Linked DNA regions of Homo sapiens. The protein of the gene in region 4 purifies or fractionates together with the protein of the main gene of each other region. This does not show direct contact. Each region holds a gene or a part of one and is shown on either strand. Other genes may lie near its edges.

The links.
Region 1: the proteins of CCDC97 (region 4) and SF3A3 purify together in Homo sapiens (affinity purification with mass spectrometry; 2 studies listed by BioGRID and IntAct, with this or other methods). This does not show direct contact.
Region 2: the proteins of CCDC97 (region 4) and ZRSR2 purify together in Homo sapiens (affinity purification with mass spectrometry; 3 studies listed by BioGRID and IntAct, with this or other methods). This does not show direct contact.
Region 3: the proteins of CCDC97 (region 4) and CIZ1 purify together in Homo sapiens (affinity purification with mass spectrometry; 2 studies listed by BioGRID and IntAct, with this or other methods). This does not show direct contact.

What each region holds. Positions count from the first base shown.
Region 1 is NC_000001.11:37,956,429-37,959,034, reverse strand, and holds the end of SF3A3 (splicing factor 3A subunit 3), read left to right. Parts: intron 1-771; coding exon 772-849; 3' UTR 850-2,060; downstream 2,061-2,606. UniProt on the Homo sapiens protein: Component of the 17S U2 SnRNP complex of the spliceosome, a large ribonucleoprotein complex that removes introns from transcribed pre-mRNAs.
Region 2 is NC_000023.11:15,800,444-15,807,501, forward strand, and holds part of ZRSR2 (U2 small nuclear ribonucleoprotein auxiliary factor 35 kDa subunit-related protein 2), read left to right. Parts: intron 1-3,244; coding exon 3,245-3,353; intron 3,354-3,667; coding exon 3,668-3,754; intron 3,755-7,058. UniProt on the Homo sapiens protein: Pre-mRNA-binding protein required for splicing of both U2- and U12-type introns. Selectively interacts with the 3'-splice site of U2- and U12-type pre-mRNAs and promotes different steps in U2 and U12 intron splicing.
Region 3 is NC_000009.12:128,167,573-128,174,572, reverse strand, and holds part of CIZ1 (cip1-interacting zinc finger protein), read left to right. Parts: intron 1-4,465; coding exon 4,466-4,553; intron 4,554-4,872; coding exon of another isoform or gene 4,873-4,950; intron 4,951-5,053; coding exon 5,054-5,167; intron 5,168-5,371; coding exon 5,372-5,521; intron 5,522-7,000. UniProt on the Homo sapiens protein: May regulate the subcellular localization of CIP/WAF1.
Region 4 is NC_000019.10:41,320,123-41,325,382, forward strand, and holds the end of CCDC97 (coiled-coil domain-containing protein 97), read left to right. Parts: intron 1-218; coding exon 219-348; intron 349-2,472; coding exon 2,473-2,593; 3' UTR 2,594-4,751; downstream 4,752-5,260. UniProt on the Homo sapiens protein: May play a role pre-mRNA splicing through the association with the splicing factor SF3B complex which is involved in branch-site recognition.

The DNA.
Region 1 (2,606 bases), on a different chromosome or scaffold from region 4:
TGCCATGGAGATTTATAGACTAAAATGCCGAGACTCTGTATCATGTATTAGATCTCCTTTGAGGAAAGCATCTAATGAGAGATGATACTCTCATAGCGACAGGGAGATGTCCTTGTTGGTCTTATGATGGTCATCCCAAGCAGCAGGTTTCAGAGATCAAGAATGACATGTATGTAAGGAATGGTACTGACTCACTCCAAGTCCCATAGTAACTGACAATAGCCTCCCTTTTTTTGAGTCAGTGGTTTTCAGTATTTTTTTTCTTTTTGGCAGCAAAACTCTCTTCCACTTGTAATATAGTACTCTGATATATAAAATAGAATCAAGCAGAATTGCCCTGGACATGGGGAAGCTCAGACTTCCTGGCTTCCCTTTCAACCCCTGCAATGGCCTCTGAGCAGAATCCTGGGATTCTTGGGAACCATTTGAAAACTGCTGTTGTAGGTCAGCCTTTCTCAACCAGGGTTCCCCATCTTAAACATAGAGAGCTAAATAAACTATTTTCTCAGATACTCTAATGATGGGTCATGACTGATATCATTCTAGATGTCTACGAGAGAAGTTAATTCATTGCACACGGTGGCTGCTTTGGGGCAGTGGGACTTAATTCTCTTGTGGAACCCCAGTTGAGAAAGGCTTAGATGAATGCCAATCTTAGTGTACCAGAGTATGCCATGGAATCAGGCCAGGATGAGCTCAGGTACTTAGAGATTGGTTCCAAACATTTCTTTTAGGAGAGCTGTCTAACAAAGTGTACCCCTTCCTTTTCAGGAAGAATATGAAGACTCAAGTGGGAATGTTGTGAATAAGAAGACATACGAGGATCTGAAAAGACAAGGACTGCTCTAGTGTTCAGGGATGTAGCTCAGCTTTTGGGCTAGCCCAGGCTTCCCTAAGATCTGCTTTTTCTATTTCTCCCAACCAAATCCTCTTAAAGACCCTTTGCTATGTAGTCTCATGGTCTAGCATGCATCTTGTAGAAACAAGGCATGCTGGCAGATTGCAGGGTTGAGATGTGTTTTATCTGTTTTATATTTTAAAAGATTCTGCCAGAAAATAAAACCAGACCTTGTTCTAAAGCCCAGGGTTATGGACCAACTCAGTGCTTCAGGTCTTAACGCCTCCATACCTCTTCCTCACCAACTTTACTAGTAGCTGAGATTTAATGGGCACCTATTATGCTACATATCATGTTAGGTAAATCTGACCTGACCTCTTTCCCCACCCTCCTTTGTTGCTGCTTCCCTGAATGAGTATTACCCCAGGATGAGGTCTGCCATCAGCTTAGTTAGCCATTGATGCAAATACTAGGGAAAGACTAGGAGGATGAGCCAGGGTTGCTACTAAGGACTAAGTGTCGCACCAAGGTTTGCCTTTTGTATTTGCATAAAGAAAGGAGTTGGAGCTGGGTGCAGTGGCTTGTGCCTGTAGTCCCAGCTACTTGGGAGGCTGAGGCAGGAGGGTTGCTTGAGACTAGCCTAGGTAACATAGTGAGACCCTGTCTCATTAAAAAAAAAAAAAAGGCATGGTGGCACGCACTGTAGTCCCAGCTACTCAGGAGACTGAGGCTAGAAGATCCTTTGAACCTAGGAGTTTGAGACCAGCCTGGGCGATATAGTGAGGCCCCATCTCAAAAAAAAAAAAAGGGGGGGGGGGGGGAGTTGGGCTGTGTTGGAATGGGCCTGCAGCCCAACAAACAAGGGAACTAGGACCGACAGTGACTTCACCAGCTTGCTAGGTCAGAATGAGAGACTGGTGGGTCTGTCTACCTGTTTCTTCTACAAGATCCCTATTTGACTGTAAAAGTAGCTAATACTCACATGTTCTCCAATCCCAGGTAGCCATGGTAGAGTTGGGTAGAGTTGAGCAGCTGCCCCAGGATCCAAATGTGGTGTCTGAAATGGAAAGAACTAAGGCAACCAGGAAGGCACTGATCTGCCTTATAAGCACAGTCATCTGAAAGTCAGGCCTGCTGCAGGACAGGATCCCCCAGAGACCCCATTTGCCTCTCAACACTCAGACCTTCAACTGTTTTTTAATAAATCTACTTTTTAAAAAAATGTTAATCTTTTTCTTTATATTACACATTTATATCTTATTTTTCTAAAAACCTACCAAGAACCAGTGCCGCACTCATCCCATGCAGAGGCAGGCTGGCTAATATATCTACTTTTAAAAATTCCAACTCAGGCCATGCGCAGTAGCTGATGCCTGTAATCCAAACACTTTGGGAGGCCGAGGGCAGCAAATTACTTGAGGTCAGGAGTTGGAGACCAGCCTGGCCAACATGGCGAAACCCTGTCTCTACTAAAAATACAAAAATTAGCCAGGCGTGATGGCATGCACCTGTAGTCCCAGGTACTCAGGAGACTGAGGCAGGAGGATCACTTGAACCCAGGAGGCGAAGGTTGCCATGAGCCGAGATCACGCCACTGCACTCCAGCCTGGGTGACAGCGAGACTCCGTCTCAAAAAAAAAAAAAAAAAAATCCCAACTTGAATTAGCCTTCTGCCTCACACCAATCTTTTGCCCTGGTTATTTCCATGGCAGTAAAGTTTCACCACCCCCACCCCAGTGGCACTGCACTCTAGGTTGGTATTTTCCTT
Region 2 (7,058 bases), on a different chromosome or scaffold from region 4:
CCCAAAGTGCTGGGATTATAGGCATGAGCCACTGCGCCTGACCTGTAATTGTTTTTGAAAACAGAAAAAAAACAAAAAAAATTAACAAATGTAAAAAGGGAAAAGACTTTAATAATTGCAACACACCCAAAGATAGCCACTGTTAAGAAAGAGAAAAAGAAAGTGTAAATGTACTTTACGTGTGTCTTTCTATAATGGCATGATATTTATACATATTTTTCTATAAATTGCTTTCTTGCTAAATATATAGTGCATTTATTTCAGTACTGATGCAGGGATCTAATTCAGCCATTTCAGTGGCAATACAGTACCCACTGTACAGATGTAGCATAATTTATTTGCTATTCATAGTTTATTCATTTATAATTTATAGTTCTCTACTGATGGACTTTCAGGTTATATTGGTTTTTCACTCATATGTAAAAAGTTGCAGTAAGCATCCATGCTTATATATCCTTGGTAATTGTCCAGTTATTTCCTTAAGAACATGACTAAAAATGAGATTGTTGGAATCAAATCATAAGTCCATGTAAAATGTAGATGGCCAGGTAGAAAGGGCTTCCTGGTTTGCAGTTTGCAGCCCTTCTGGCAGTGAATGTAGGGGCCCATCTCCCCATACCTTCACTCATACTAGGCATTATCAGTTTATAAAACTATAATGAAACTGTTTCAAATGCACATTTCTGAATTAGGTAGAGTATCTTTTTATATGTTTTATTACCTATTTGTAGATTGCTCAAGTCTCACACCTTTCTCTTTTGGGATACATGTTTTTTTAAAATTTGTTTTTGTTTTGTTTTGTTTGAGACGGACTCTCGTTCTGTCACCAGGCTGGAGTGCAGTGGTGTGATCTCCGCTCACCGCAACCTCCACCTCCCAGGTTCACACGATTCTCCTGCCTCAGCCTCCCGAGTAGCCGGGATTACAGGCACGCACCGCCACACCCAGTTAATTTTTTTTTGTACTTTTAGTAGAGATGGGGTTTCACCATGTTGGCCAGGATGGTCTCGATCTCTTGACCTCATGATCTGCCCGCCTCGGCCTCACAAAGTGCTGAGATTACAGGTGTGAGCCACCGCGCTCAGCCGAAATTTCTTAATGTCTCTAAGCTTCTATTTCCTTGTCTGTAATATGGAGATAAAGTCAATCACAGTATCCACCTCACAGAATTGTGAAGATTAAAGGAGGTGATGGATGTATAGTGTTTAACACAGTGTCAGCAGATGAGAGGTGCTGTGATAGCTCTAGTTCTTATTATTATAGATTTCTGTTATGATGAAGACAATAGATACGGTATGAAATAAGAGAGTAATTTTTTTCCTGTTTATTTGAAATGCTTCTTTTAAATCACATACATGTATCTTTGTGCTCCTTAGATCTTTATTTCTTTATGAGTTGCATACTATTATTGAAAAGCAAGAAAATTATGTAAAAATACTGTATGACTTTATGTCCTATTTCAAAGCAGATGTATATTCAAGTTATTAAATTTTAAAATTTTTAACATTTTACTTTCTTGTGGTCTTAATTTATATATCATTTGGTTCATTTATATACAATTATATGTTTTTCAAAAGATTTGTAAATCAGAGTTGTGCCCACTGAAACATCTATATGGTACCCTCACACATGGCATAGGAACACTGATAGATGCAATGTGCCAGCCTCTGCCATGGCTAAAAGATGTGTTCCTGGAATCTGTATTTGGAAATGTAATATATTTTATTTAAAATTGTGGTTAGGTCCCCAGACTAGACATAAAACTTTACTGAACTCCTAATACTGCTGAAGTAATATAGAACAGTTTCTCATATTTAATTTCCCTTTTATAAATTCAGTGGAAGAATGAATTTGAGGTTCTACACACCTAATTGGCAGGTAGACTTTGGCAATCTAACCCCCTCTTTATATTAGAAATTTGTGATATTGGATGTCTGAGACACTTGCCACTTTAAGGTAATACCACTCATTATAATTGGTCATATAAAAAATAGACTAGACACTCACTAATTTATTTTTATTTTTTCATTTTTTGAGACGAAGTCTCGCTCTGTCACCCAGGCTGGAGTGCAGTGGCATGATCTCGGCTCATTGCAAACTCCGCCTCCCAGATTCAAGCGATTCTCCTGCCTCAGCCTCCCAAGTAGCTGGGATTATAGGCGGCTGCCACCACGCCTGGCTAATTTTTGTATTTTTAGTAGAGATGGGGTTCACCATGTTGGCCAGCCTGGTCTCAAATTCCTGACCTCAGGTGATCCGCCCGCCTCAGCCTCCCAAAGTGCTGGATTACAGGTGCGAGCCATTGCGCCCGGCCCTCACTAATTTATTTTTATAACTCCATTTCTTAAAACCTGTAGCTTTATTTTAAAAACATGATTACAATGTACTTTTATTTTCCTTCTTTTGGCTGTTTAGGTGTTTGGAGGCAAACCACAGGAGTCTCTTAACTGTGTGTAGTAGTAGTCCAAAGGTTTATGGCAAAGGATACTGGGTTTTCAGCGTGCTGCCATCATGGAATTGCTACTTTTAAGAATAGGGGCTGGGTGCAGTGGCTCACACATGTAATCCCAGCACTTTGGGAGGCCGAGGCAGGTGGATCACTTGAGGTCAGGAGTTCGAGACCAGCCTGGCCAACATGATGAAACGCTGTCTGTACTAAAAATACAAAAATTAGCCTTGCGTGGTGGTGGGCACCTGTAATCCCAGCTACTCGGGAGGCTGAGGCAGGAGAATCACTTGAACCCGGGAGGCAGAGGTTGCAGTGAGCCAAGATCATGCCACTGCACTCCAGCCTGGGCAACAGAGTAATACTCTGTCTCAAAATAAATAAATAAATAAAAATAAATGCATAGAATAGGAAGGGAAATGCTTTCTGAATATGAAAAGGTAGATGCTGCTTTGAAACTTGCTACCCATTTTATTGTCACCTAAACATCACTGTGATCAGTCTAGAGGGAAAGTCATAGTGTCCTTTTTTCTGTAAAGTATGTCACAGCCATATATACCTATGAAATGTAAGAGAGATTTTAAGTTATTACCCATTAGGAAGATAGTTGCTGACACGTGGTGCTTTTCCAAAAGCTCTGCTCTTCTCGTTCTCTTACACCCACTTGACTGCTTTAATAGAAAATAGCTTTCGTGATATTTGAATCAGTCCCAAAATGTGTCATTTTGCTCTCGTGTGTGTGTGTATTTGTGGATTAATGCCCATTTCTTTTATCTGATTACATCATTATACTGATAGGCAAAGATTACATGAGGAGTGGTTGCTAAGAGAGCAGAAGGCACAAGAAGAATTCAGAATAAAGAAGGAAAAGGAAGAGGCGGCTAAAAAACGGCAAGAAGAACAAGAGGTATGGTAGGAATCACGTAACTAGTGAACAAACTGATTACTTCACCATAATAACTCTCATGAAGAGTTGCCTATCTTGGGAGGTTGGAGTGAGCTGAGATCACGCCATTGCACTCCAGCCTGGGCAGCAAGAGCGGAACTCCATCTCAAAAAGAAAAAAAAAAAAGAGTTGCCTATCTTGAACTTAAAAAAAAAAAACAAAAAACTGATCTTATTCAGTTTGCCAGTGTTTTAAGTTTTTCATCTATGTGCGCTGTATGTGAAATGTTTTTAAAAAGTGACTGAAACAAAGTTACTTTTTCTTCCCCTTTAAAGAGAAAGTTAAAGGAACAATGGGAAGAACAGCAGAGGAAAGAGAGAGAAGAGGAGGAGCAGAAACGACAGGAGAAGAAAGAAAAAGAGGTGATTCCTGTCATGGGATGTGCTGTGTGATGAGTTTGAAGAATAATCAGTAGGCATGTCAGAGTTTGGGTTTTTTTTTTCTCTTTTTCTTGTCATTTCATTGTTTGTTTGGAAAGAATCATATTTCAGTTTAGACATAACACCAGAGTTCCCTTCTGATGCTCTTCTTCGGGTCCGTGCAGTGGCAGATTCCTTAAAGTTTTCTTCAGCTTTACCCTATTTACCCTTTATACTGGGCATTGGCAAATGTTGTAAAGGGCCAGATGGTAAATATTTTAGGCTTTATGGTTTGGTCTCTGTGGCAAACATCCAACTCTGCCAGTGTACCCTGAAAGCAGCCATCGATAATATGTAGATGAATGGGTATGGCTGTGTTCCAGGAAAGCTTTATTTACAAAACAGGCAGCTAGCCCTTGCTTTATAGCAAGTTATGTTCTTCTGAGGTTCTGCTGTATATGAGTTGACTTCTTTAGAGAATAATACTTTGTTTTGTTTCCACATTTATTTAGGTCATAAGAGAACTGCTTATGACATGTCAGCAAGAATTAGAGGATTTAAAGAAATCAGGAACTCAAATATTGAGGAACTAGGAAACAGTTTTTGTTATTTGTATTAAATCTTGACTTCCTCTTCCACTTAGGCTATGAAGATAATTGTAGCTAACACACAGTTGCTTATTTAAAAAAAAAAAAAAATCTGTGAGGCATATGTGTGTATGTATCTTCTCTATCTTCCAGGATTCTTTTTTAAGGATTGATTTGGTATGTTTTGCTGCTATTCCTTGACAGTATATTTATTTCAGAGGTATCACAGCTCATCTTCCCTTGACTGATTCATCAGGATTTGTCTTTTTTGTAATACAGCTAAATTTAAATAGCATAAAATTGGATAATCACCTTATAATTGGGAAAAATGCATGTGTCTTCATTGTAGTCAATATGGGGCAGAAGCAGCCTCCACGATCTTTGTTTTTTGTATCTTAGGCCATCAGTTAATTTCAGTGCAGATTTTAAACACCTTTATTTGAGCACTTCTTTCCAGATGAGGCAAGTTCATGCTAGGTTTTTAGGGGGCAGAAAAATTGTTTGGAACTTGTCATTTTTTTATAGAGAGGAATTAATTCCCATTTTAACAGTAGAGTGTTCCTCAACTGAGGTCTTTCAGGAATTCAGTAACAGCTAAGGCCTCTTTTGAATGCTTTTGTTTCAGAGGAAATCTGTGAGACTTCAAGGAGAAATGAGGGAAATGAAATAGATTCTAAGCTTATAAAAAAGAATCAGCAGTATGTGTTCCTGCTGTATGCTAGACACTTCGCTAGCGGACAGAGACAGAGCAGTGAAAGACACAGTCTTTGCTCTCATTGAGCTAGTTTTTTATATGGGAGTGTGAGATGATAAGCAAAACAGATCATTCAAAATGTGATCATATTAAGTGCTATAAAGAAATAAAGCAGGCCAGGCGTGGTGGCTCACGCCTGTAATCCCAGCACTTTGGGAGGCTGAGGCGAGAGGATCACGAGGTCAGGAGTTCGAGGCCAGCCTGGTCAACATGGTGAAACCCCGTCTGTACTAAAAATACAAAAAATTAGCCAGGCGTGGTGATGGGCGCCTGTAGTCCCAGCTACTCAGGAGTCTGAGGCAGAAGAATCACTTGAACCGGGAGGCAGAGGTTTCAGTGAGCCAAGCTTGAGCCACTGCACTCCAACCTGGGCAATAGAACTAGACTTCGTCTCAAAAAAAAAAAAAAAAAAAGAAAGAAATAAAGCAGAGTGATGTGATAGAGTAATGAGAATAGAGTTGTGCTTCTATAGATTGCCTGCTCAAGGAAATTTCTGAGGAGGTGATGTTTGAGCTGACACCTGAGTGGAGAGATCTCAGCAAGAAGAAGCCTGAAGCTTGAAGGCTGAAAAAAGGCCAGGGAACCTGAAATCTAGAGTCCAAAGGAGAGAAGGGCAGTGGAGGAGGTTGCTGAGGGAGAGGGGGCAGTGGAGGAGGTTGCTGAGGGAGAGGGGGCAGTGGAGGAGGTTGCTGAGGGAGAGGGGGCAGTGGAGGAGGTTGCTGAGGGAGAAGGGGCAGTGGAGGGTAAGCAGAGTCAGATCATGTAGGGCTTCCTGGATTTGAAGGAGGAGTTTGGATTTTATGTTTCCTATAATGGGAAGCCATTGAAGGGGTTTAAGCAGGGAATGACTCTGTCTCATTTATATCTGTACCTTTTAACAGATCATTCATTTAAAAAAAAAATTTTTTTGAGATGGAGTCTCATGCTGTCGCCCAGGCTGGAGTGCAGTGGCGTGATCTCTGCTTACTGCAACCTCTGCCTCCTGGGTTCAAGCAATTCATATGCCTCAGCCCCCCGAGTAGCTGGGATTACAGGTGCCTGCTACCACGCCCAGCTAATTTTTGTATTTTTAGTAGAGACAGGGTTTCACCATGTTGGCCAGGCTGGTCTCGAGCTCCTGACCTCCAGGGATCCACCCGCCTCGGCCTCCCAAAGTGCTCGTGTGAACCACTGCACCAGACTTTTTTAACAGATCATTTTTACTTTACTGAAACCTCTGCCTCCCGGGTTCAAGCGATTCTTCTGCCTCAGCCTCCTGAGTAGCTGGGACTACAGGCGCCCATCACCACACCCGGCTAATTTTTTGTGTTTTTAGTACAGACAGGGTTTCACCATGTTGACCAGAGGACAAGGAGAGAGAGAGGAATTCAAGTCATATTTTTAGGTTTTTAGTTTGAATAGACAGATAGACTGGCAACACTATTCACTGAGGGAGCATTCAGGTGGATGTGGGCCAGGGAGTGTAGAGGACAAGAGTTCTGTTTTGAGCACCACAAATAAGCAACTAGACATACGAGTCTTATGTAATGCTTTAAGGGGCTAGGGAAGATAAGACTGTCTGTTAAACATAGGTACAACTTGTTCAAATGCCAATTAGGTAGAAATTTACTGGCATATTGCAGAACCTCCTTTGCCTTATTAAAAAGTTAGAATTTTCTCCTAAATGCTAATTACCACTGGTCATGTCATATTTTAGCTTCTGCTAAATGTTTATGATTTCATCTAGCATTGTTTTTTGGGTTTTTTCGTTTGTTTGTTTGTTCGTTTTTTTTTAGACAGAGTCTTGCTCTGTCGCCTAGGCTGGAGTGCAGTGGCGTCATCTCGGCTCACTGCAACCTCTGCCTCCTGGGTTCAAGCGATTCTCCTGTCTCAGCCTCCCAAGTAGCTGGGATTACAGGCACGTGCCACCACACCTGGCTAATTTTTGTATTTTTAGTAGTGACGGGGTTTCACCGTCTTGGCCAGG
Region 3 (7,000 bases), on a different chromosome or scaffold from region 4:
GTTCTTCGCGGTTGTAAGTGAAAAAAATTCTAATTTCTATAAGACAGAAATTAGCTTGAGCAAAAAGGAACAATGTTTCTGGCTTAGGTTAGTGGGAATATAAGAGATACAGCTGGACCCAGGGGATACCATTTCTTAGAGAGGCTCCATCTCTCACTACAGTGGGCACCAGGTACCCACAGCCCCAGCCTCCCTGCACAGTGACTTCCAAGGAAGGGCAGTCACCTGTGTCTGCGGTAGCAGAACAGTTTCTAGTGGAAATGCTGGTTAATCTGATTGTGGTCACGTGCACGTTTCTGAAGCAATCCCCTGGCCAGGGATAAGGTGTTCTGACTGGCTAGGCCTAGGCAGGCCAGCTCTACCCAAACCACATGGAAATACATTTCCCCATGGAAGGCAGGGGGGTGTTCCCAGGAATGGGGCTGAAGGCTGGATCCCAATACCCTAGCTGGTGGGGGTGCCCGTCTCCTCCCTCCTCAAAGCCCCCAGGGCAGGTGCTGTGAACTAAGCCCTTGCCTACCTTAGCTATTTCTTTGTTTTTTTTTTTTGTTTTTTTGTTTTGTTTTTGAGATGGAGTCTCGCTCTGTCACCCAGGCTGGAGTGCAGTGGCGCGATCTCGGCTCACTGCAAGCTCCGCCTCCTGGGTTCACGCCATTCTCCTGCCTCCGCCTCCCGAGTAGCTGGGACTACAGGCGCCTACCACTAGGCCCGGCTAATTTTTTGTATTTTTAGTAGAGACAGGGTTTCTCTGTGTTAGCCAGGATGGTCTTGATCTCCTGACCTTGTGATCTGCCCGCCTTGGCCTCCCAAAGTGCTGGGATTACAGGTGCAAGCCACCATGCCCGGCCCGCGTTGGCCGTTTCTGGGCAGCCTCAGACGTGACACTGGCACAAGGTGTCTGCCTGTTTGATGACCATGTTCTCTCCCCACCCCCTTTCTTCATTTGTTGTGTTTTTCTCTCACAGAGATCAAAATGCACATTGAAAAATAGAGCCAGGCTGGCATGGTGGCTCACACCTATAATCCCAGCACTTTGGGAGGCTGAGGTGGGGGGATTGCTTGAGTTTAGGAGTTCAAGACCAGCCCGTCATGAGACCTGTGTCTCTGTAAACTATAAAAAAATTAGCCGGCCGGGCGCGGTAGCTCACGCCTGTAATCCCAGCACTTTGGGAGGCTGAGGCGGGTGGATCATGAGGTCAGGAGATCGAGACCATCATGGCTAACACGGTGAAACCCCGTCTCTACTAAAAAATACAAAAAATTAGCCGGGCGTGGTGGCAGGCGCCTGTAGTCCCAGCTACTTGGGAGGCTGAGGCAGGAGAATGGCCTGAACCCAGGAGGCGGAGCTTGCAGTAAGCCAAGATCGCGCCACTGCACTCCAGCCTGGGCGACAGAGCGAGACTCCGTCTCAAAAAAAAAAAAAAAAAAAAAAAAAAAGAAATTAGCCAGGCCTGGTGGCATGCACTTGTAGTCCTGGCTACTTAGGAGGCTGAGGTGGGAGGATTGCTCGAGCCCAGGAGGTAGAGGCTGCAGTAAGCCTTGATCATGCCACTGCACTCCAGCCTGGAGCAAGCTGCTTTAAAGTCTGATTTTGTTGCTTGCAGCAGTATTAAGAAGATTTTACTGAGGACAGTAAATGTCCCTAAATCCTAAAATCTAAAACCTGGTACTCTCACTGTGTGGCTGATGTGCCTTTTTTGACTACAAAAAAATTTTTTTTTCTGATTTTAAAAATAATTCGCTCATTATATAACGTTTTGAAAATACAAGGACACAGACACATGAGAAGATAAAAATCACCCATAATCCCATTACCCAGAGATAAACACTGTTTACATTTTGACCTAGTTCTTCTTGTGATCCTTTCTGGATTTATACAATCTTTAAAAATAAAAATCGGAATCATGCTACATGACAACACGAACACTTTCTGTCTCTAAGCAGCCCTCCCCAGCAGAGCTCTTACAGGGCTTTATCAGTGGACATGTGTCCCCTAAAATTTATGAAAACTTGTGTATTTGCATATTTTATAGAGAGTCCTTATTTTCGCTGAGTGAGACACTTTTTTTGGTTTTTTTTTGAGAGGGAGTCTCGCTCCGTTGCCCAGGCTGGAGTGCAGTGGCGCAATCTTGGCTCACTGCAACCTCCGTCTCCCAGTTCAAGCAATTCTCCCGCCTCAGCCTCCTAAGTAGCTGGGATTACAGGTGCCTGCCACAACGCCTGGATAATTTTTTTGTATTTTTAGTAGAGACAGGGTTTCACCATGTTGGCCAGACTGGTCTTGAACTCCTGACCTCAGTGATCCGCCTGCCTTGGCCTCCCAAAGTGCTGGGATTACAGGCGTGAGCCACCATGCCCAGCCAGGGTTTTACATGTATTTGGCTTTTCTTTTTTCTTTTTTTTTTTTTTTTTTTTTTTTTTTTTTGAGACAGTGTCTCACTCTGTCACCCAGGCTGGAGCGTAGTGGTGTGATCACAGCTCAATGCAGCCTCAGAACTCCTGAGCTCAAGGAACCCTCCTCCCAAAGTGCTGGGATTACAGGCGTGAACCAGCGGTATGCCCAGCCTTGGTTTAAGAAGCTGCCTACATAAAGGATACACTCTGGCCAGTGATAGCACAGCCCTTGTCATTGACATTTGTTTGCTTTTTAATTTTCTTATATCTTTCAACATGTAGAAGTTTTAAATTTTTATGCAATCGGATCTATCAGTTTTTTCCTTTATGATTTCTGGCTTTGATGTTATATGTTGCAATGATCTTTCCCAACCCAAGATTAAATAGTTGCTCTCCCCTTGTAAAATAAGTATTATTTTATTTATTTATTTATTTATTTTCTGAGACGGAGTCTTGCTCTTTTGCCCAGGCTAGAGTGCAGTGGCGCGATCTTGGCTCACTGCAACCTCCGCCTCCTGGGTTCAAGCAATTCTCCTGCCTCAGCCTCCCGAGTAGCTGGGATTACAGGCGCGTGCCACCACACCCGGCTAATTTTTTTTTTTTTTTTGTATTCTTAGTAGAGATGGGGTTTCACCATGTTGGTCAGGCTGGTCTTGAACTCTTGACCTTATGATGTGCCTGCCTTGGCCTCCCAAAGTGCTGGGATTACAGGCGTGAGCCACCGTGCCCGGCCCTATTTTATTTTATTTTTTGAGACCGGGTCTCTCTCTGTCACCCAGGCTGGAGGGCAATGGTGATCTCGGCTCACTGCAACCTTAACCTCCTGGGCTCAAGGAATTCTCCCACCTCAACTTTCCAAGTAACTAGGACTATAGGTGCACACCACCATGCCTGACTAATTTTATTTTATATAGAGACAAGATCTCACTATGTTGCCTAGGCTGGTCTTGGACTTCTAGGCTCAAGCGATCCTCCTGCCTCAGCCTCCCAAAGTGCTGGGATTATAGGCATGAGCCACTGCGACTGGCCCCCTTTTTATTTATTTATTATTTATTTTTGAGACAGCGTCTTGTGTTGCCCCAGCTGGAGTGCAGTGGCAGTCATGGTTCACTGCAGCCTCGACCTCCTGGGCTCAAGCAATCCTCCCACCTCAGCTTCTGAGCAGCTAGGACTACAGGCATGTGCCACCAAACCCAGCTAATGTTTTTTATGTTTTGTAGAGATGGGGTCTTGCTGTGTTGCTCAGGTTGGTCTCAAACTCCTGGGCTCAAGCAGTCCTTCTGCCTTGAGGACTGGGATTACAGGTGTGAGCCACTATGCCCGGCCTCCCTTTTTAAAGTATATGGTTTTTATTTTTATGCCTGAATCTCTGGTAGTTCAGCTAGAATTCATTTTCAAGTAAGGTAGAAGGTGGAAGCAGAAGGCGTTTCTTCTCCAAGTAGACAACAAATTGTTCTGACATAATTTGTTGTATAATCTATGCTTTTCAATACCAATTTATCAGAAGCAGAATTCTTTTTTTTGAGATGGGGGTCTCACCCTGTCACCCAGGTTGGAGTGCAGTGGCGCTATCTTGGTTCACTGCAACTTCTGCCTCCCAGGCTCAAGCCATCCTCCCACCCCAGCCTCCTGAGTACCTGGGACCACAGGTGCATGAGCCACCATGCCTGGCTAATTTTTTGTATTTTTGCTAGAGATGGGGTTTCCCCATGTTGCCCAGGCTGGCGAAGCTGAATTCTTACCAATATTTGAACCTGTTTAGGACTTTCCATTCTTTCCCACTGATACACTGTCAGGATGTACATCACACTACACAGTTTTATCTATTGTAGCTTGTGGTTTTCATTTTAAAGGTTGGTATCCCCAGTGCTTCATTCCCCTTCCCCCTAAAGTTTCCTGGGTTATTTCTGCTTAAGTACTCATCCAGATGAACCTCAGAACCATTTTGTTAAGCTTCCCTAAGAGATCCTGTGGGAGTTGCTATTGGAATGGATTACACTTATGGAGCGCTCTCAGACAGCTGCTGTCTTTCTGGCGTCACATTGTACTTGCTTTGACTGTTGTCATTCAGGGAGCCTCCACCAAGGCGCTGGTGCAACACCTGCCAGCTCTACTACATGGGGGACCTGATCCAACACCGCAGGACACAGGACCACAAGGTAGGAGGGCCTGCACGCTGCAGAGGCACCCGCACTGCCGTCTGCAAGTGGAGTCCAGACAACACAGAGCCCCAGTTGGAAAGTAAACGTTCCTCTTTGCCCCTGCACACCCATAACCCACAATGCAGTTTCTGGAGGAGTCAGTCTTGTTTCTTCTTCGGGCTTCAGGTTCCCCATCTGTCCAGTGTAGGCCAGGCCCCATCTCACCTGCCATTCAGCCACGGGGCTCACAGGGGTTATTTGGGCAGCTGCCCTCTCTCTCGTCTTCTCTCTGTGTCTGTCCTGTCTCTGTGTTGCCATCTGCCATCCTATCTCTCAGCCACCCACACCACGAAGAGATGTGTTTGCCCACGTTCCAGTGCAGGGGTGGAGCACAGCCCGGCTTGTTACAGATATGGTGGGCCTGCCCGGGGGAGGTGAGCTCTTGCTGGGCCCTGCCTGGGTGCTAGTCAGGGGGCTTGCAGCTGGGGACACTGCTTGGTTGGCCTGCCTTTTTCCAGATTGCCAAACAATCCTTGCGACCCTTCTGCACCGTTTGCAACCGCTACTTCAAAACCCCTCGCAAGTTTGTGGAGCACGTGAAGTCCCAGGGGCATAAGGACAAAGCCAAGGAGGTAACCTGAGCTCCCTCAGAGGACATGGGCCCAGAGAGGTACAGAGCCTTGGCCAAGGCTGTGTAGCAAGTTGAGGTTTATCCCAGCCCAAACTCACAGCGGGTCTGGAGGGATTGGGACTCTCAGGGGAGGGGTGGGGTGGGTAGGGCATGGCCCCCTGGCTGTTCAGAGCTGACCTGAGCTCCTTGCCTACTCCCTGGGCAGCTGAAGTCGCTTGAGAAAGAAATTGCTGGCCAAGATGAGGACCACTTCATTACAGTGGACGCTGTGGGTTGCTTCGAGGGTGATGAAGAAGAGGAAGAGGATGATGAGGATGAAGAAGAGATCGAGGTTGAGGAGGAACTCTGCAAGCAGGTGCTGGGGGGAGGGTGTGGGAGGCGGGCTTGGTGCTGGATTCCCAGCCCAGGACAGACCTCATCCCACCTCCCGGAGGCCAGACACTGGGCTGGCATCTGTGGGCACTAATGCATGCCACAACTGATTACTGTCAACTGCCTTCTGCATGACTATGTAATTATGCATGATGACTAGAGAGTGGCAGTTAAAATATGCAAAGCCTGACTGAAATTTGGACCTGTGTGGAGGAAGGGAAAGGGAACAGCATCAGTAAAGGCACGGAGGTGGGAAACTATGTAGTGTGCAAAGGAAAAGTCAGATGATGGTGATGATAATGGAGAGACTGACAGCAGCAGACATCTTTTTGAGCACTTAGTGTGTTCCAGGTGTGTGTACCAAGCACTATCCTGGCTGAATCTCATCAGATTGGATGGCAGGAAGTAAAACTTCAGAGTCCATGTTTCCAATGCCGCAGCTACCCTGTCTCTCATGAATGAGGAGCTGGAGGAGCTTGGATTCGTTGCAGTTTTTTTTTTTTTTTCTTTTTTTTTTTCAAGACGGAGTCTCGCTCTGTCGCCCAGGCTAGAGTACAATGGTGCGATCTCAGCTCACTGAAACCTCCACCTCCTGGGTTCATGCGATTCTCATGCCTCAGCCTCCCAAGTAGCTGGGATCACAGGTGCCCACCACCACGCCCGGCTAATTTTTGTATTTTTAGTAGAGACGGGGTTTCACCATATTGGCCAGGCTGGTCTCGAACTCCTGACCTCAGGTGATCCACCCACCTCGGCCTACCAAAGTGCTGGGATTACAGGCGTGAGCCACCATGCCCAGCCAGATTCTTTGCAGTTTAACACGTTTCCAGAGAGTGTGTTCTAGGTCAGGCCCTGGTGCTGGAAGCAGGGACCCATGAGGGCCAAGGCCTGGTCCTTGCCCTCAAAGGCTGACCCAGTTATAGTCCAGGGTGGTGAGGGGCCAGCTGGGGCTGCTCATAGCCTCTGGCAGCCAAAGTGGGGTATTGAGGGGCTGGGGAGGAAGCGTTGTGGTGGGGGGGCCTGCAGTCCTAGGCAGGGTAGTATGAGGCCCAGCTTCATTGCTCAGTAGTCACATCATCTCAGGCAAGCCACTTGGCCTCTCTGAGCCTCAGTTGCCTCTGCTCAGAAGTAACAACCTGAACTTGGACTATCAGGGAAGCCCAGGGCCCACAGCTTGGTCCTAGGAAGGGCTTAGCAAACGGGGGTGGTTGTCCTTCTTGGAAGCCACATTTGTTTGCCTGGTGAGTGGTGGAGGGCACTGCTAGGCCTGCTAGGGCTGACACGGCCAGAGTCAGATGACCTCATCTCACATCCAGCAGGTGAAATGCAGTCTTTGATCCCTTGAAACCCACCCTCTAGGACCAAGGTCACTGCAGTATTGGATAGGACCTCAGGGAGTTAGCAGGGGGCTCATGGTTAAGAGTGTGAACTACGGCTTAGACCTACAGGGTTCCCTGCCCAG
Region 4 (5,260 bases):
GATCCTGACCCGAGGATACAGTCTCCAGAGCACTATATGGTCATGTGTTTTATGCGTGTCCCTGGAGGGCAGGGACCAGGGCCATCTCTGTCACTAGTGTGTTCCCAGAGCCACCCAGCGCAAGGCTGGGCACAGGAGCAGCAGCTCTCTGTGGACTCTGTGCTCAGTGCCTGCCCGAGTGCACCCGCATTCACACCCCCTCTCCTCTCCCTCTGCAGACCAGAGGTCAGGCAAGGACTCGGAGGCCTGGGTTCCCGACTCGGAGGAGAGGCTGATCCTGCGAGAGGAGTTCACCAGCCGCATGCACCAGCGCTTCCTAGATGGCAAGGACGGGGACTTTGACTACAGGTGCTCCTGTGCCTCCACCTCCCCATCCCCCAGCCCAGCATCCCACGGCCTTTGGTCACATGCAGAGCCCTTAACAAGCTGTGGGGGTCTCCCTTTGTGGAGCTACAAGGCCCCAAAACAGTTCCAGGATGTGGGGTTGAACAGCCAAAGGAAGAGGCTGGGTGACCTCGGACTAGCCTTGTCCATCTCAGACCCTCAGTCTCCTCACCTCTAAGGCAGGGGATGGACAGGGATGACATATAGCTCAGTATCAATGAAACCCTGAAACACTTCCCTCCTGGCAATGGCAGAGGCTACTACCCCAAGCCCCCCAAGTCTCCCTAGGAAGCCCAACCTCTTCCGCTTCACCTTGGACCTCCTCATGCTGCAGGAAGTAACCCCTGGCAAAGTTCATGCCCGGCATGGAGGGGCCTGCACTGGCTGCCCCCACAGTTACAGTTGTTCATTTCTCCAGTAGCACCCCAGGGCTGAGACACGTGGGCCACCTGCTTTGGAAAAGGACCCAGGAGAGTGATGTGTCAGTCAAAGATTGGTTTTGTCATTTAAGGTAGCTTTGCCTTGTGGTCCCAAACACTGGGCCCAGCAGCAGAGGACCCTCCTTGGTTTCACATCCAGCCCCGATGACATGTGAAATGTGTGACCACACATAAGCGGACCCTACGTCCGTCCTGAGGTGGGCTCATCAGGAAAGTGGGAATTGTGATTGCCCCTGCCGTGGGGCCCAGCCATGGTCACCAGAGCCTCCTCCCATTCTGGGATCCCTGGCTCTTGAATGGAATCTGGCTGCTCCACTTCCAGCCAGGCAGGCCTGCTCAGAGCCCCAGTTCCTGCACGCAAAGTGGTGAGCAGAGGGCCTGGACCATGGGGACCCTCATTCAGCAGGCATCACTGCTGTTCCCAAGCCAGGGCCCAGGAGGAAATTGGGGGTGGCAGGGACCACAGTGTGTTGCCTCGGGAGGGCAGCAGTGGCCCCGACGTGTCCCCCATCCGTGCATTCAGTTGGCATGTGCTGAGCATCTGTGATGTCCACAGGCTCTGGGGATAAGGCGGGGACCAAAACCAACGAAAGGCTTCCCTGCCTGAAAAGGGGTCCCACTCTAGTGAGGAAGATCTAGAATTTTCTAGCACTTCATGGTGATGGGGCCATGAGGAAAAGTGAAGCAGTGGGAGGGGAGTGACAGGGTGGCTAGGGAAGGCCTCTCTGAGGGGCTGACAGCAAAGGCCTGCAGGAAGTGGGAGGAGCATTCCTGGCAGAGGCCATAGTAGGTGCCAGAGCCCCCAGCAGCACCAAGGGGCAGAAGGGGCTGGAGCAGTCGCAAGGGGTCGCAAGGGGGTAGGAGATCTCTGAGTGGCCAAATCAAGCTAGGCTTGGCAACCCAAGTGCGTGCTGCTGGGTTTACTTGCTGCCTTAGGGCATGGGCAGCTGTCCTGCCTGTGGTCAGCTCTGGCTAATCCCGGCCTCTATCCACTGGAGGGCAGTAGCAAGCCCCCAGTGATGACGTCAAAATGTCAAAATGCCGTGGGGGCAAAATTACCCCCAAGTGGTTCTTTGTTGAGAGCCACTGCCTGCTTGAGAATGTAAGCCCATGTGTCGCCACATTTTACAGCTTTTTAAGAAAAACTAGAGCTTTGGGGTTTTTTTTAGACAGGGTCTCCTTTGTCACCCAGGCTGGAATGTGGTGGTTTGATCATAGCTCACCGCAGCCTTGACCTCCTGGCCTGAAGTGAGCCTCCCGCCTCAGCCAACTGAGTAAGCTGGGACTACAGGTGCTCACCACCACGCCTGGCTACTTTTTCAATTTTTTTGTAGAGACAGGGTCTCCCTTTGTTGCCCAGGGCTCCAACTGCTGGGCTCAAGCCATCTTCCTGCCTTGGCCTCCCATAGTGCTGGGATTGCAGGCATGAGCCACCATGCCCAGCCCAGAGTTTTTGTGCAAACTCTGATTTGGAAAATGTTCCCTTGAGTTTTAAACCCTGAGAGTTTTAAACACTATCTCCCTTGGGAGGGTCAGCTCTGACGGCTGCCAGCACATGGCCTTTGACATCAGGGTGCCCCAGGCCTTTGACCTGGGCATCCGAGGGTCCCAGGGAGACCCAGTCCTTGACAGCCTCCTCCTCCTGCAGCACAGTAGACGACAACCCCGACTTCGACAACCTCGACATCGTGGCACGGGATGAGGAGGAGAGGTACTTTGATGAGGAAGAACCTGAGGATGCGCCCAGCCCAGAGCTGGATGGGGACTGATGGCCGCCACCCTTCCCACCGCCTGCCCCATCCCCATCCCCAACAAGGCAGCTGATTCCAGGCCTGCTCAGTGACCCTTTCTCTAGGGGGACATCAGGGCAGTGCCCCACAACCCACACACACCACCATCTCACTGGGTCTAGTCTCATCTCAGACAACCCCCACCCCCACTGTTTCTGGGGTTCCCTTTCTCATCTCTCCCACCCTGTCTCCTGCCTCTGTCTTTCTTGGTGTCTGTCTGGGCTTCTTTCTGTCTCTTTCTGTCTTTCTGTCTCTCTCCCTACCCCCGCTCCCTCTTTCCAGTGCTCTGGCTGGCTGTCTCTCCCTTTCTCCCCCTCTCTCTCTGCCTTAGGCTCTGTCTCCACCGCAGGGCCCAAGGTGAAAGTCCTCCCCTTGCCGGAGGCCAGCTGGCAGGGCCTTTCGTGGCTGGAAGTGGCCAGTTTGGTTCCGGTGCTGACCCCTAGGCCCCAGCGCAGCTGCCTCCCGTGCTGTCTGTCTCCCCCTCTCTGTTTATGTCTGCGCTGTGTCTCACACTCAGAGCCTCCTTGCTTCTGTTAGGTTCCCATCTCTCCTTCTGCCTCACTCTGGGCCTCTTCTTTCTACTTGTACATTTCCACCTCTCTAGGCCTCTGCTCTCACTGTCCCTCTCTGTCTGTCTCTCAGCCTTTATCTCTGGGTTTTGATCCCCCACTCCAGGCTCTGGGCCCCTTCTTCCCCCTTCCCTCAAACCTGGCTGCTATAGGCAGCAGAACCCTGACCACTGAGTAATACAGCCCCAGGGGAGGGAGGAGACCCCAGGCAGGGAGGATGGGGGCAGCTCTCTTCTCTCCCCAGGACCCAGGCTGTGGATCACGGGGCCTGCCAGCTTGAGTGTAGAGGGAGGGGGGACTCTACCCTTCTCAGCCCCACCAGCCCCCCTCTGCCCAACCACAATTTTCCCTTCCTCCGCCTTCCTCTCCCTCTCCTGTTTACACTCCCCAAATGCGCACAGGCTGTTATCATGGGTCCTGAGTCATCCCACACACAGCCTGCCCCAGCGTCCCTGCCCCCAGCTGGCCGCAGGGCCCGCCCCATGGAGCCCCCTGCCGCCCTGGGCTAATGGGAGCCAGATGGCCGCCTGGTGACTCAGCCACCGGGCCTGTGGGAACCCAGGCGTCCCGCCTTCCCATGCCCCCACACCCGGCTCCTGCTCCCCCAGCAGACACACACAGGAGGGCCTGGCCACTGTTGAGGGGGCACACAGGGCAAGGGTCACCAAGTCGGGGCCTAGGGACTCCTCATGCCTCTGAGATGGAATGGTGGTATCCTGCCGTGGCCAAGCCTGAAGGACCCTCAAAACTGCCTCCTGGAGTCCACGGTTCCTGACCTCCGAGCCTCAGCTATGCCCTCTGGGTCAACCAGAATTAGAGCCAGACAGGGAAAGTGAGAGCTGGATGGAGGCAGACAAGATGCTCAGAGCGACTATTAAAGAACGAAAGCCTCTGCTACGGAGCGCTTCTGTCCTCTGTCAGGCCCGAGCGAAGTGCCTGACACCGGGTTGGATCCTCAGATGGCCCCATGAACTAGTGAAGTGGGTCAAAGGAGGCCTGGAAAGATGTTGCTTCCTCAAGGCCACTCGGCCATCAGAGGCAGAAATGAAACAGGAACCCAGGCCTAGAATCACAAAGGTCCTAGAAACCACTTGGCTGTCTGGCCTCTCAGGTGTCAGGGCCATCCAGAGTGAGACAGCATTGGAGGGACAAGTGTGCATGCAGATGTCCTCAGACGGGAAGGTTTGAGAAGGGTCAGATGGTAGGCGGGCCTAACAAGGGCTCCGTGCTAGCCACTGTCCCGCACACAGACAGGATCAGGTCATCTTGATATGGAGATCAGTCCCCAAATCACTGAATTGTCCCAGCAGTGCTATGCCCTAGGTACTACCAATATCACTCCTCTATTTCCCAGAGGAGGAAGCAGCAGCTAGACTCCAGGACCTTGGGGTCATATCTCTCAGAAAGCCAAGAGTGCAGGATGAGAGCTGTCTGTCTCTTACCTGCCTGTATTTGTGCCCCATTTTTAAAGAGCAGAGGGCCTGGGCCACAGGAAAGGTATCAGCCCTTGGTGATAGGCACATTTTTTACCAGTCTATCATTTGGTCATTAAATTTGTTTACAATATACTTTGCTATACGTAAATTTGTTGTGTAGGTTTTTAAAAAGCGATGAGAGACACAGAAATTGAGTCAGAATTAGGGTTAGTCAGATGGTCAAGACGTGAGCATCTAGCTGACAGACAGAGGTGGAGCCAGTCCCAGGGACAGGGATTAGATGGGGAGACAGGAAGAGAGGTGGAGACAGAGTGGGGTAGGGATGACGGGAGACACACCCCCTGGTCACTGCCTCTGAGACCTGGGGGTGGTGGGCCCCAGGGCGGGTGCCTCCCATCCCCCTCCCAGTTCTCCCGGGGTCGGGGTAGGTGGAAAGGCTGAGTCAGGGAGGGCGGGCCCCGCTGGGAGACAACCCCTAGGTGGGCATCCGGCCCCCACCCCCGTGTCTCCTGTCCGTCCTGGCCCTGGCCTGGCTCGCTGGCCTGGCCGCCACCCCGCCCCCCACGTCTGACACCTCCATGCGTCCTGCCAAAGCAAGCTGCCTCCCTGCACTCTTCCCCCTCCAGCTCCAGTCACTCTGT